Homo sapiens: one gene and its partners. The protein of the gene in region 1 purifies or fractionates together with the protein of each later gene. This does not show direct contact. Each region holds a gene or a part of one and is shown in the gene's direction. Other genes may lie near its edges.

Region 1 (3,611 bases):
AGCCTGGGAGGTCAAAGCTGCAGTGAGCCATGATCATGCCACTGTACTCCAGCCTGGGTGACAGAGCGAGACCCTGCCTCTAAAAAAAAAAACAACAACAACAAAAAACCTTGCTGCTGATTGAATATGCCTGACCTTGGTCACTTTTCTCAAGTGTCTTGCAGTCAAGGAAGTTCCGTCTGTTAATGACAGGGAAGTGAAGCAATCATTAAGAGATGTTAGTTACAGACTCCCTGTACCTCACAGGAACTGACTCATGTATTTTCATATGAAACCATGGAGTTTTAGGGAGAGCCAGAAACTCAGAAACCTGTTTCCTTACCAGGAAAAATGTCATCATCTCATCTGGGTTTTTATTACAATAAGCCACAAAGCATGATGTTCTCTCTTGGTTTTTATGAATTCCTTGTAAGCATTTTTTTCTGTGCAGCCTCATAGACTCAGAATTGGTATTGAATATAACTTTGGTCCTTTTAACCTTTGAATTAGGTGAAGTAGTATTTGAAGCTTTTCATCAGTTGGCTCATTCTTTACTCAAGAATAAACCTCAAGAAACGTCATCAGGGTCAGAGTAAGTGCTCATATTGGAAAGAGAAATTCTCTGTAAGTTGAATTCCTTGCAAGTACTTAGAATTTTGAGGTAAACGTGCCCACTTCCAGCTCCAATCTGCATTCTTTAGCTGCTCAAATTCTCATAATTTCAGGACTACCCTAAAGCATATTATCTCCACCTCTTATGCCTTTCCCTCCATAAGTTGAAAATGGATCATGTTCCCAAAAGCAAGCAGTGAGCAGCTTACTTCCCGATCCTGATGAGCCTGTTAGAGGAAAACCCAGAACTCAGAATGAGGTGTCCAGCTGCCTGGCCTTGCTACTTACTCACCAAATCTGCCCTCCTTGTCTTCCCACCCTGTCTTCTGGTTCAAGGCTGTACAATATTCATTGTTCTAATTCTGACTAATCAGAATCTTCCAGTAGTGGGACTTTTTTTTTTCTAGCTTCCCTGAATTTATTTTAGATATAGAAATGTAAATAGTTATGAAAAAAGGAGAGGGGGGGCTGAAATACTTTGTTTTTTCATTTTTATAGAGATAGGGTCTCTTTATATTGCCCAGGCTGGTCCTGAACTCCTGGCCTCAAATGATCCTTCCATCTCAGCCTCCCAAAGTACTGGGATTATAGGAATGAGCCACTGGAGCCAGCCTGAAGTTTTTAAATAAGTTGTTGGGGTTTGCTTGTTTGTTTTTGAGATGGGGTCTCACTCTGTCACCCAGGCTGGAGTGCAGGGGCTCAGTCTTGGCTTGTAGTGCAATCTCAGCTTACTTTAGCCTCCCGGGCTCATACGATCCTCCCACCTCAGCCTCCCAAGTAGCTAGGACTACAGGCACATGCCATCAGCCCTGTCCAATTTTTGTATTTTTTTACAAAATGAATGTTTTGTTAAAAACATGTTACCGAGGTGGGTCTCAAACTCCAGAGCTTAAGTGACCTGCCTGTCCCAGCCTCCCAAAGTGCTGGGATTACAGGCATGAGCCACTGCACGTGGCCTTAAATAAATTTTTGTTGGTATTTTTGGGTTTTTTTTGTTTTTTTTGAGATGGAGTCTCACTCTGTCACCCAGGCTAGAGTGCAGTGGCGCAATCTCGGCTCACTGCCAGCTCCGCCTCCCGGGTTCACGCCATTCTCCTGCCTCAGCCTCCCGATTAGCTGGGACAGGCGCCCACCACCATGCCCGGCTAATTTTTTTTTGTGTATTTTTAGTAGAGACGGGGTTTCACCTTGTTAGCCAGGATGGTCTTGATCTCCTGACTTTGTCATCTGCCTGTCTTGGCTTCCCAAAGTGCTGGGATTACAGGCATGAGCCACCGCGCCCAGCCGGCCTTAAATAATTTTTTTTAAAAAGGAAACACCTAATATCCATCAGCAAAATAGATAGTACATTGGGATATCTTCATACAGCAGGCTGAATTGCAGCACTGAGAATATATGAACCAGAGCCATGTGTAACAACATGGATGAATCTTATGAATGTTATGGGCAAATAAAGCAAATTGCAGAACTTACCTATAAACTTTTTAAACTTGCAAAGCAGGCGGGGTGCGGTGGCTCATGCCTGTAATCCCAGCACTTTGGGAGGCTGAGGCAGGTGGATCATCTGAGGTCAGGAGCTCGAGACCAGCCTGACCAACATGGTGAAACCCCATCTCTACTAAAAATACGAAATTAGCCAGGCGTGATGGTGCGCACCTGTAATCCCAGCTAATTGGGAGGCTGAGTCAGGATAATCACTTGAACCTGGGAGGCGGAGGTTGCAGTGAGCCGAGATTGCGCCATTGCACTCCAGCCTGGGCAACAAAAGCGAAACTCTGTCTCAAAAATAATAATAATAATAATAATAATAATAATTAAATAAATAAATAAAACTTGCAAAGCAATACTATAAATGTTATGTGTAAAGATATGCACAATAAACAATAAATTCAGCATAGTGATTCCTTCTAGGAGAGGAAGGGAAATGTTATTTGGAAGGGGTACAGTGGGGGTTTCTACTGGATACATAATTTATTCTTTAAGGTCTGTTGTAACTGTATGGCTATTATATTGGTCTCAGTATCTTTTCTTTGTTTTTTTTTTTTTTTTGGAGACAGAGTCACTGTTGCCCAGGCTGGAATACAGTGGCGTGATCTTGGCACACTGCAACCTTCACCTCCTGGGTTCAGGTGATTCTCGTGCCTCAGCCTCCAAATAGCTGGGATTACAGGTGGTTGCCACCACACCTGGCTAATTTTTGTATTTTTAGTAGAGACTGGGTTTCACCATGTTGCCCAGGCTGGTCTTGAACTCCTTACCTCAAGTGATCCACCTGCCTCGGCCTCCCAAACTGCTGGGATTACAGGCATGAGCCACTGTACCTGGCCTCTATATCTTTTTGTATCTGAAATATTTTGTAATAAGAATTTAAAGATACTGGGAATTATGCTTTTGAAAAATACAATTAGCTTTACAGAATATACCTACGTCCGTTCTCTCTTGGCCACATCTTCTGAAATTAAAACTGATGTTTGAGACTAAAAACCCAGAGGGGCCTTGAGATCTTCAGTCATCAGAAAGATTTTTTTTTTTTCTTTTTTTTGAGACAGAGTCTCGCTCTGTCACCCAGGCTGGAGTGCAGTGGCCGGATCTCAGCTTACTGCAAGCTCCGCCTCCCGGGTTCATACCATTCTCCTGCCTCAGCCTTCTGAGTAGCTGGGACGATAGGCACTCACCACAACGCCCAGCTAATTTTTTGTATTTTTAGTAGAGACGGGGTTTCACCGTGTTAGCCAGGATGGTCTCAATCTCCTGACCTCGTGATCCACCCACCTCAGCCTCCCAAAGTGCTGGGATAACAGGCATGAGCCACTGCACCCGGCCAGTCATCAGAAAGATTTTTAATTATACTTATTGGACAAGAAAGTAGACCAACGATTTTGAGAAATATTTCCAAAAAGGTTGTGACAGACTAAAAGAGAGGTTGCAACCTGACAACCTCTGGGTGGAACTGAGCCTACAGACTCATTTTGTTTGGCCTGTACAGTCGTCACTTTTTTTTTTTTTTTTTTTTTTCTTTT
Region 2 (4,376 bases), on another chromosome or scaffold:
CAAACGTCACTACTGATGTCTGTGCATACTTGACCACCTCCTTGAAAACAGGGACGCTAACACTTGCTCCAAAAAAAAATTCTAAGAATGTTAAGAGGGCAGTATTTGTCAAATGGAATGGATTTCACTGGGCAGTGCAGCAAAATGCTTAAGTTCTGCCGTGTTTTTTGTTTTGCGTTGTTTTTTAGAGACACAGTCGCGCTCTGTTGCCCAGGCTGGAGTGCAATGGCTGTTCGCAGGCGCGATCATAGCGCGCTGCAGCCTGGAACTCCTGCTCAAGCGATCCTCCTTGAACTTAGCCGGCCTCAGCTTCCCAAGAACCTGGGACTACAGGCGTGACACCTCGCTGGTTTACTCATTTTTCTGTTGAGGTATTATTGTGTGTTTCCTACTTTTACTATGCTATTTATACTCAACATAGTAGGTGCTGAATAAATACTAGTTAGTATCCTGGCTGGTCCAATACTCAGTAAAAACTGATCTCAGAATACGAAGCTGCTTGAGACCAGGCCCTTGCCCCAGTGTTCAGAGATCCACAGGTTGCTGTGGAGGCCAATCTGCCCAACCTGGAGTTCCAGAAAGGTCTGGGGATGTGTGTTGAGTGAGTCACAGACAGCCAAACTAAGAAAGGAGGAGGTGGTAGGGTGGGGAGGCCTTGCTGGAGAAGGAACAGGTGAGTGAATGCACAGATCTCTGAATCAGCAAACTGAATGAGTGAACCGCAAGCCGATATCGGAGTTGTCATACTTGTTGGGCTAGTCATGTAACCTCCAGGACCTCCATTTCCTTATCTGTAAAAAGAAATAAATAGTCTACTTATTTGCGATTATGTGAAGATTCAATAAGGTAATATTTGTAAGTATTCGCACTTGTACTTGGCATATCAACTGGCACAAAGTAAGCGTTCAATGTTAGCCACCGTCACCATTATGCGTTCATATATTTTATTTTTATTTTTTTGAGACGGAATCTCGCTCTGTCGCCCAGGGTAGACAGAATACAGTGGCGCAATCTCAGCTAACTGTAACCTCCTGGGTTCAAGCGATTCTCCTGCCTCAGCCTCCTGAGTAGCTGGGATCACAGGCGCGCTCCACCACGCCTGGCTAATTTTTTCGTATTTTTAGTAGAGACGGGGTTTCACCATGTTGGTCAGGCTGGTCTCGAACTCCTGACCTGATGATCCGCCCGCATCGGCCTCCCAAAATGCTGTGATTACAGGTGTGAACCACCGCGCCCGGCCTACGCTTTCATAATTTAATAATACCTTATAATAATTATGAACTGTGTCATTCCACGAATAATTTATTCCCTGGTCGTTGACTGCGAACGAGGTTGACAAGGATTCATAAACAGCCATTTCAGTCCCAAAGAGCTTTTAGACAAGGAAGCCAGGACCGGCTTCACAATCCGAGACAAGCGGCAGCGTGACGTCCCCACGTCCGCTCCCAGGGTCACGTGACCCGCAGCCCCGCCCGGACTGAGTGGGTCCCCAGCGGCTGCGACAGCAGCGTCTGCGCCTGCGCGGAGGCAAGCGCGCTCTGCGGCGCGGTCCGCTGTGGAGGCGGCGCGAACGGTCAGGGGGCGGCCGATGGCTTTGAGGGGCCCTGCGGGCTTGGGGCCCGGCTCTCGAAGGCCGTTGGACGAAGCGGTGGCAGGGGCCGAGGGCCGCGAGGCGCCGGCCCTTGTGGCGGCGGGAGGCGCGCCAGAGGACGATGAAGAGGACGATGGCCGTGGCCGGGGCCTGCTGCGCTGGGACAGCTTCTCCGCCTGGCTGCACTGCGTGTGTGTGGTGGGCTTCGACCTGGAGCTGGGCCAGGCCGTGGAGGTGAGGCCCGGCCCCGCCCTTTCTCGGCGCTCCTCCCCTGCGCCGGGGCGGCTGCAGCAAAGCCAGCGGCCCGCGGGCTGACCGGCCAGGACCCTGTCCGCGGCGCATCCGGGCGTGGCCAGTCTCCCCTCCCGCGCTCTTTCGGGCTGCGGTCCTACGGCACTTCCCGTGGGAGGATCTTGGGCTGCGGCTAGGGGTGAAAAGTTCTCTCTAGGCCCCTCCTAAATACTTGTTGATGTTCATCCTGTTCTTTCTTTATTTCTTTTAAACGCAGAGTCACAGAATTAACTAAAAGGGTTAGTAGCACCCACCCGGAGAAGCCCGCAGGCAGGATGTTTGTTTGGTACTTTTTCAAGAACAATGCCCATAACAGATGATGAACTCTAGTAGCCGAACTTGCACAACCAAGTTTTAAGGCTCAGATTGTTTTAGTCATTTGCAGTAACTGTTTGAGCGTTTCCCTCAGCCTGAGTCGAAATGCTTATCTCAGCACGCATTTTCTCCCTTTCCTCCTTTTGTGCCTCATTTCTGTTTTTTTTTTTTTTTTTTTTTGAGACGGAGTTTTTGCTCTTGTTGCTCAGGCTGGAGTGCAATGGCGCGATCTTGGCTCACCGCAACCTCTGCCTCCCGGATTCAGGCAATTCTCCTGCCTCAGCCTCCCGAGTAGCTGGGGTTACAGGCATGCGACCATGCCCGGCTAATTTTGTATTTTTAATAGAGACGGGGTTTCTCCATTTTGGTAAGGCTGGTCTCGAACTCCCGACTCAGGTGGTCTGCCCGCCTAGGCCTTCCAAAGTGGTGGGATTACATGCGTGAGCCACCGTGCCCGGCCTCATTTCTGTTATTTTTTTTTATGTTGCCTCTGGAACAGTTGGTGTGAAACTACTGTCAAGATGAATATAGGGAACATCATTTGCTTGTCAATCAGTCAACTTTTCCATTCTTATGTATGGCCCCTTACCGAAAGGCTTTAGAAACATCTATTCTTGACGTTGTTGAAGGTCTTTTTAGCATAAGGAATTGCTTGCTTTCATGTGTCCAAGGAAATTGTTATCAGAAGGGCGTTTGTTTAGACGTTTTGGTTTTGGTTTTTTTTTTTTTTTTTTTTTTTTGGTATTGGTGACAGATTTCGATTTCATTAATACTGTAGTGGCCTGGTTGACTAAGAAAATTGGCTAGGGGTAGTTTTCTTAATGCGAAGCTACTGCTTTCGTATTCGGCCTGCCTTCTGGATGTTTTATTATAACACAGTTCAGCGACATTAAGTTTCCACTAAGAACCAGGCATTATGTTAGTTGTGGAGCATACAAATAGGATGTGCTCTAATCTGTATTTGTAGATTGAGGCAATAATTTAGAGGAGAACCAAGAATTAATCATAGTAGCTGATAAGGCCAAATGCAGTGCCTGGCACCTAGTGGCATTCTATAAATACTTTTGATAGAATAGGTGAATATGTGAGCAATTCTTTATCTTATTAAAGTAAGAAAAACAGTTCCCAAAGATTTTGAGTAAGAGATTTATAAGCCATTTATTATTCACCTTGCCATGTTAACCTGAAGTTATATGTACAGCAAGATACAATTTAACCAGAAAGCATAAGAATGGGTTGTTGTAGTTGATTGTGTTTTTAAATAGCTAAAGGAGATTCTTTTGGATTCTCATTATTTGGGACATTCTTTATAACGTGAATATGTTTTTTGACCAAATAAACAGAAAATATATTTGAGATGCTGCAAAAATGTGAATTATTAAAGGACTTATTTTGAATTTCATTTTCCATAGTGTATGCCACTGTATAGAGTTTTTTCTAGGTCAGGAGTTCTTAACCTTTTGCTTCCTGGATCTTTTAAAAATATGAACATTGTGAATTTTCCACTAGGAAAAGGCTGAGTAAGATGAAATCATGTATGTGGTTCCATATATGTGGTTTCCAGCTATTTAAGACATAAACCTAGTAGGGCTTCAGAAAATGGCTAGAGTTCAGAACCAGGGAAACCTCTTGGTTTTGCTCTTTTTTTGTGTGCAGATCTTGTTTATATTTCATGTTCCCTGCAAACTGCCTTCTTCCCCTTCTCTGATTTTTTTTTTTTTTTTTAAAGACAGAGTCTAACTTTGTCAGCCAGGCTGGAGTGCAGTGGTGTAATTTCGGCTCACTGCAACCTCCACCTCCCAGGTTCAAGTGATTCTCCTGCCTCAGCCTGCCAAGTAGCTGGGACTACAGGTGCATGTCACCATGCCCAGCTAATTTTTGTTTTTTGAGAGAGAGAGTCTTGCTCTGTTGCCCAGGCTGGAGTGCAGTGGGGCAATCTCGTCTCCCTGCAAGCTCCGCCTCCCTGCAAGCTCCGCCTCCCAGGTTCACGCCATTCTCCTGCCTCAGCCTCCCAAGTTGCTGGGACTACAGGCACCCGCACCACGCCCGGCTAATTTTTTGTATTTTTAATAGAGACGGGGTTTCACCGTGTTAGCCAGGATGGTCTCGATCTCCTGACAGTGTGATCTGCCCACCTCAGCCTCCCAAAGTGCTGGGATTACAGGCATGAGCCACCGCG
Region 3 (4,364 bases), on another chromosome or scaffold:
CCCGTATCCTCATCGCCCCTGTGTGGATGAACTCCATCTGCGCGGTGCCGGTGGAAGGACCCTCCCAGCCCCGGGACACCGCGGCTCTGTGGACTCATCTGAAAAATGTCATCCCTGGAGTCCTAGGAGAGAAGGGGTGGGGTTGGCAGCCTTAACGCCCCATCCTGCATCCTGGCGGCCTCCCGCATCCGCTCCCCCACAGGTTCCCCAGAGACAGGATGATGGATGGCAATCCGAGTGCAAACCTGGCGCTTGGCCAGCACTCTGGAAGAGGAAGTTCTCAGTTCCCAGGGCACCTGAACCCACAGCCGCCCCCACTCCGCTGGCCCCCCTGGTCCTGGAAGACCTGTTACTAGGCTGCAGAAGGGGTGGCGGAGTGATCAGGGGGCGGGGAAAGAGGCCAAACAAAAGAGGGGAGGAGCAGAGGCCCCAGTGAGGCAGGAGGGAAGCCCCTGCCCAGCGGGAAATTCCTAAATGTCTGGGTCCTTTCCAGAGGGCAGGAATTCCTAGCCTAGAGTGTGAAATAAGGAAGGAAGTGAATCTCCAGTGGGTTCCCTTCACAGCCCCTTTCCATCCTCCCCACATGCCCCACCCCCACATCTCCCAAAACAAACCCTGAGAGACGGTGTGGATGGGGAGACAGGCCTGGAAACGGAGGCCTGCGCTGAATGGGCAAAGCCGGGTTGATGATCCAGACGAGGCCCTGGAGTCTGGGCCTTGGGCCCCTCCCCTTCTGCCTGCTCCGGCAGCCTGTGGGTCCAGCCCCAGCCCCAGAGGGGGAAAGGCTCCAGTGGGAGTCCCATAGGCCTGGCTAGGAACCCCACTCCGCTACTTAAAGTGGTGTGAGCCGGGTCAGCCACTTCACCTTTCCGCATTTACGCATTTCAAGCAAGGCTTGACGACCGGAGGGGCTCAAGGCCCTGTGCACAGCCGCGCGGCCAGCACTCTGGCCAGCCTTGTAGCCCCCTTCCCCTTAGGGGGCCTCCTTCAGGAAGCCCCCGTCCCCTGCCTCCTTGTGGCCACGGTGACACCGGAACACTTCAGAGGGGCGGCTGGGGAGTTGGGGTGGGACGGGCTCTCCCGCAGCTGGAGCCGGTGTGTGACGCGGGAACGCGGCCAAGCGCGCCCCATCCAGGCGGCCTATCAGGAGCCGTCGTCGGACAATGGCTCCGCGCCTGACAACCCCGTCGTCCCCGTGCCGTCCCCCGAACTCCACATACCATGCGACGCGCGGCCAGCCCCCCGCCCCTGCCCGGCTGCTGGGAGGAAGTGACAGCGCCCCGCATCCCCCGCTGGGCAGGCCGGGCGCGCCCAGCCCCTGGGACGCAGGGACACAGCCGGGCCGCGCTGGGCCTTGGCCTCCGCCCGCGGGTTTTCCGCGGTTGCGGCGGGGCGGGGAAGGAGGGGCGGGCGGGGCGGGGCTGACTCTGCGACTATTTCAGGCCTTGCGGAACCCGGGCCAGGACAGTGGCGGCCAGGCCGGGACACGGTAAGTGACCTCCGCTTCCACACGTCCATTCCCCGCCGCTCCGCGCGGCTTCTCGCCCGCCCCTACCCCGAGGCCAGGCCGGATTCCCCGAGGAAAGAGCCTGTCGCCGCGGCGGGGACAGGAGGGGGCTGGACGCTTCCAGGGAAACTGAGGCCCTGGCGCGCCCAGCGTCCGCGCGTCCGGGCGCAGAGGGGCCAAGGCTGGCTGAGGGCCCGGGCCTGCCAGAGGCAGGGAGGGCGGGGCTGGGGCAGGCGCAGGGGTCTCCCCTCCATTACAGCAGAAAGGCCCCAGGTCCGGCGTGACTCCCCGGCCGGGCGACACAGGCCGAGTCACTTCCTCGCCCGTGCCCGGGTGTCCTCATCGGGGGATGGGTGCGCCTTCCACATCCTGCCCAGGACTGAAGGAGCCGGGCCCAGCGAGCTCCCGGGAGGTGTGTGGACATCAGCCCTGACGGGGAAGGCGAGCCAGGTCAGTGGACCTGAGGAGAGGCCGGGCAGCAGGAGGCTGGGGGGCGCTGTTGAGCCACTGGCTGTGACCCCTCTACGAGCCTCCCAGCAGGCCCCTTCCTGCCTCAGTGGGCCCAACCAGCGGCAAGGCTCAAAGGAACGCCCCTCCTCCCCTTCTTCCTTTCTGGCTGCACCGGCTCGCTGCTGCCTGCAGGACAGACTCAGGACACAGGAGACTCACCCCCACTGAGGCCCAGCTAGGCGCCCAGCACTTGGCTGTGCGGTTTGGCCACATCCCCTCAGCAGCACTGTGGGGTGGGGGTCCTCATCCCCTTTTCAAAGACGGGGAAACGGCGGCTTGTGAAGGAAGGAGGTGTGCAGTCCACACACTAGTGAGAAGTGTGCTGAGCCCACACCGAAAGCGTTTCTCTTTCCATGGCACCAGCTGCCTCGGAGAGCGGAGACCTGGGGCGAGGCCCAGGGGGCTGCAGCAGGACCTTCAGGCGCTCTGGGTTTCGTGTCACAGAGGGGAGAAGGCGGTGATGCTGTGGGGGTCCTGCGGGAGCTGTGCCTGGAGGTGGGACAGAGCCTAGTACATGTGGGGTGGGACAGGGAAGGCTGAGGTGAGGCTGGCAGGGAGCATTGCTGGTAAGGGCCACCCTCCCCCACCCCAGGAGAATGGCAGAGGTGGGGCCTGGGCACCCAGGGTGGGGCTGAGTGGCCCTGCCAGACAGACCAGCTCCCGCGGGTGCTAGGCATGCACCTGAGAGGGGCTGGGAAGCGAAGTTGGGGCACCGGGTGGGGAGCAGAGGTGCCCCATGGCCTTGCCCCTGGGGCTCCCTGGAGCATGCCCCTCTTGGTCCTGGAGTGGAATGCTCAACCCAAATGGCACTAGGGAGGCCAGTGCCATCCAGGAGTGTGGGACTCTGCCCAGGGCACTGGGTGAGCATGGCAGGGGCTGGGGGTGGGAGGAGCCCAGGCTTCCTGTCCCTCAGGTGGCTCTGGCCAAGCCCCTCCAGGATGGGGACAGGGTAGTGGGGCTGGTGGAGGCAGCGGGGCCATGGGAAGAGTCGGATGGGCCCAGTCTGAGCCTCCATGGCTGCTGTGCTTGGGGCAAACACCTCCTACTCAGCCTCAGTTTCTCCTTCTGGATGGTGGATCATCCTGCCTGCCTTGCAGGGCTGTTTCAGGGGTCACTTGAAGTTACCATGATACATGAGACAAGGCTGCATGCATTTAGTCTTGGGGTGGGGCAGACAGGTGGCATCAAGGTTACAGGTCACCCCAGTTCTTGGGGAGGCCCAGCCCCTGCCTGCTTCCCCCTTTCAGATCAGCCATGCTCTTCTCCAGTGGACCTGGCCTTGCTCTGACAATGGTCAGGTGCTGGGCAGGGACTCTGGGGAAGCTCGGGTCTTGCCTCTCTGGATGTAGCTTGCAGGATAGCTGGGGATGTGGAGGCAGGGGAAAGCTGGGCTCTGGGACCGGGTGGCCTGAGTTCCAAGCCCAAGCTATTGACTATAGGGACAGTTTAAGCCGAAATAACACCCTTCCAGATGAGAGAAAGGAAGAGATGGGATGGGCACCCAGGAAGGCTGCAGAAACTGGAAGCCTTTGTGATGATGCTACGATCCCATTTGGGAGGGGGTGGGAGCCAGGAAGCCTGGGTTCTGGACCCGAGTTGCTGTGTGACTTCAGGCCGCCCTGTGACTTGCTGAGCCCCTTGCCCCAGTGATGTGTGAAAGGCTGTCTGAGGTCCCACCCACTGTGGCTTCTGTAGATCCTGGTCAGGCTCTGCCCCTTTCATGGCCCAGCTGGAGCAGCTGTGTTTCTGTGACCCCACCGCTGGATCAGAACTGGACAAGATGGCAGAGGGGCTGGGTCTGGGCAGGAGGAGGCTGGGTTCCAGTCTCAGGCCGGTTCTGGTGTTCTAGACCCCGGCATGTCCCAGACCTTTCTGGACCTCTGTTCCTGCTCTGTCCAAAGGGACAGAGCCCATGCCCCGCCTCTTCCCTAGGGTCCCGTGGGATCCAGGGAGGTGTCCATTGCCTGCTTCCTGCCCAGAGGGTGGGCTGGCAGGGAAGGATTTGCCCAAGTAAAGTGAAAGTCCCCCTCTGTGTGGCGGGCTTGGCGTCCCCAGCCTCTTCCTTGCTTCTGGGGCTGTGAAGTATTGGAAGGGGAGCTGTAGATGGTGAGATGCTCGTGGCCAGGGAGGAAGCACAGTTGTTGGTGCTCATCTGGGCCAGGAGATGAGCAGAGCCCCGGTGGCTGAATGGGTGAAACAGACTGAGTGTACTCAATGCAGCCAGCATAGCTGTGTGTCCAGCCTGGGAGCCAGGGCCGGTCCATGGTGACCACTGATGCCTTCACCCCCACCCCGCAGGAGCCTGCAGGCCTGAACCAGGGTGATGCTGAAGATGATGACCTTCTTC

What was found.
Region 2: the proteins of LYRM1 (region 1) and DENND6A fractionate together in Homo sapiens (co-fractionation; one large-scale study listed by BioGRID). This does not show direct contact.
Region 3: the proteins of LYRM1 (region 1) and TNFAIP2 fractionate together in Homo sapiens (co-fractionation; one large-scale study listed by BioGRID). This does not show direct contact.

What each region holds. Positions count from the first base shown.
Region 1 is NC_000016.10:20,910,694-20,914,304, forward strand, and holds part of LYRM1 (LYR motif-containing protein 1), read left to right. Parts: intron 1-489; exon of another isoform or gene 490-571; intron 572-3,611. UniProt on the Homo sapiens protein: May promote cell proliferation and inhibition of apoptosis of preadipocytes.
Region 2 is NC_000003.12:57,690,231-57,694,606, reverse strand, and holds the start of DENND6A (protein DENND6A), read left to right. Parts: upstream 1-1,529; 5' UTR 1,530-1,588; coding exon 1,589-1,825; intron 1,826-4,376.
Region 3 is NC_000014.9:103,121,995-103,126,358, forward strand, and holds the start of TNFAIP2 (tumor necrosis factor alpha-induced protein 2), read left to right. Parts: upstream 1-1,466; 5' UTR 1,467-1,957; intron 1,958-2,380; exon of another isoform or gene 2,381-2,512; intron 2,513-4,315; 5' UTR 4,316-4,364. UniProt on the Homo sapiens protein: May play a role as a mediator of inflammation and angiogenesis.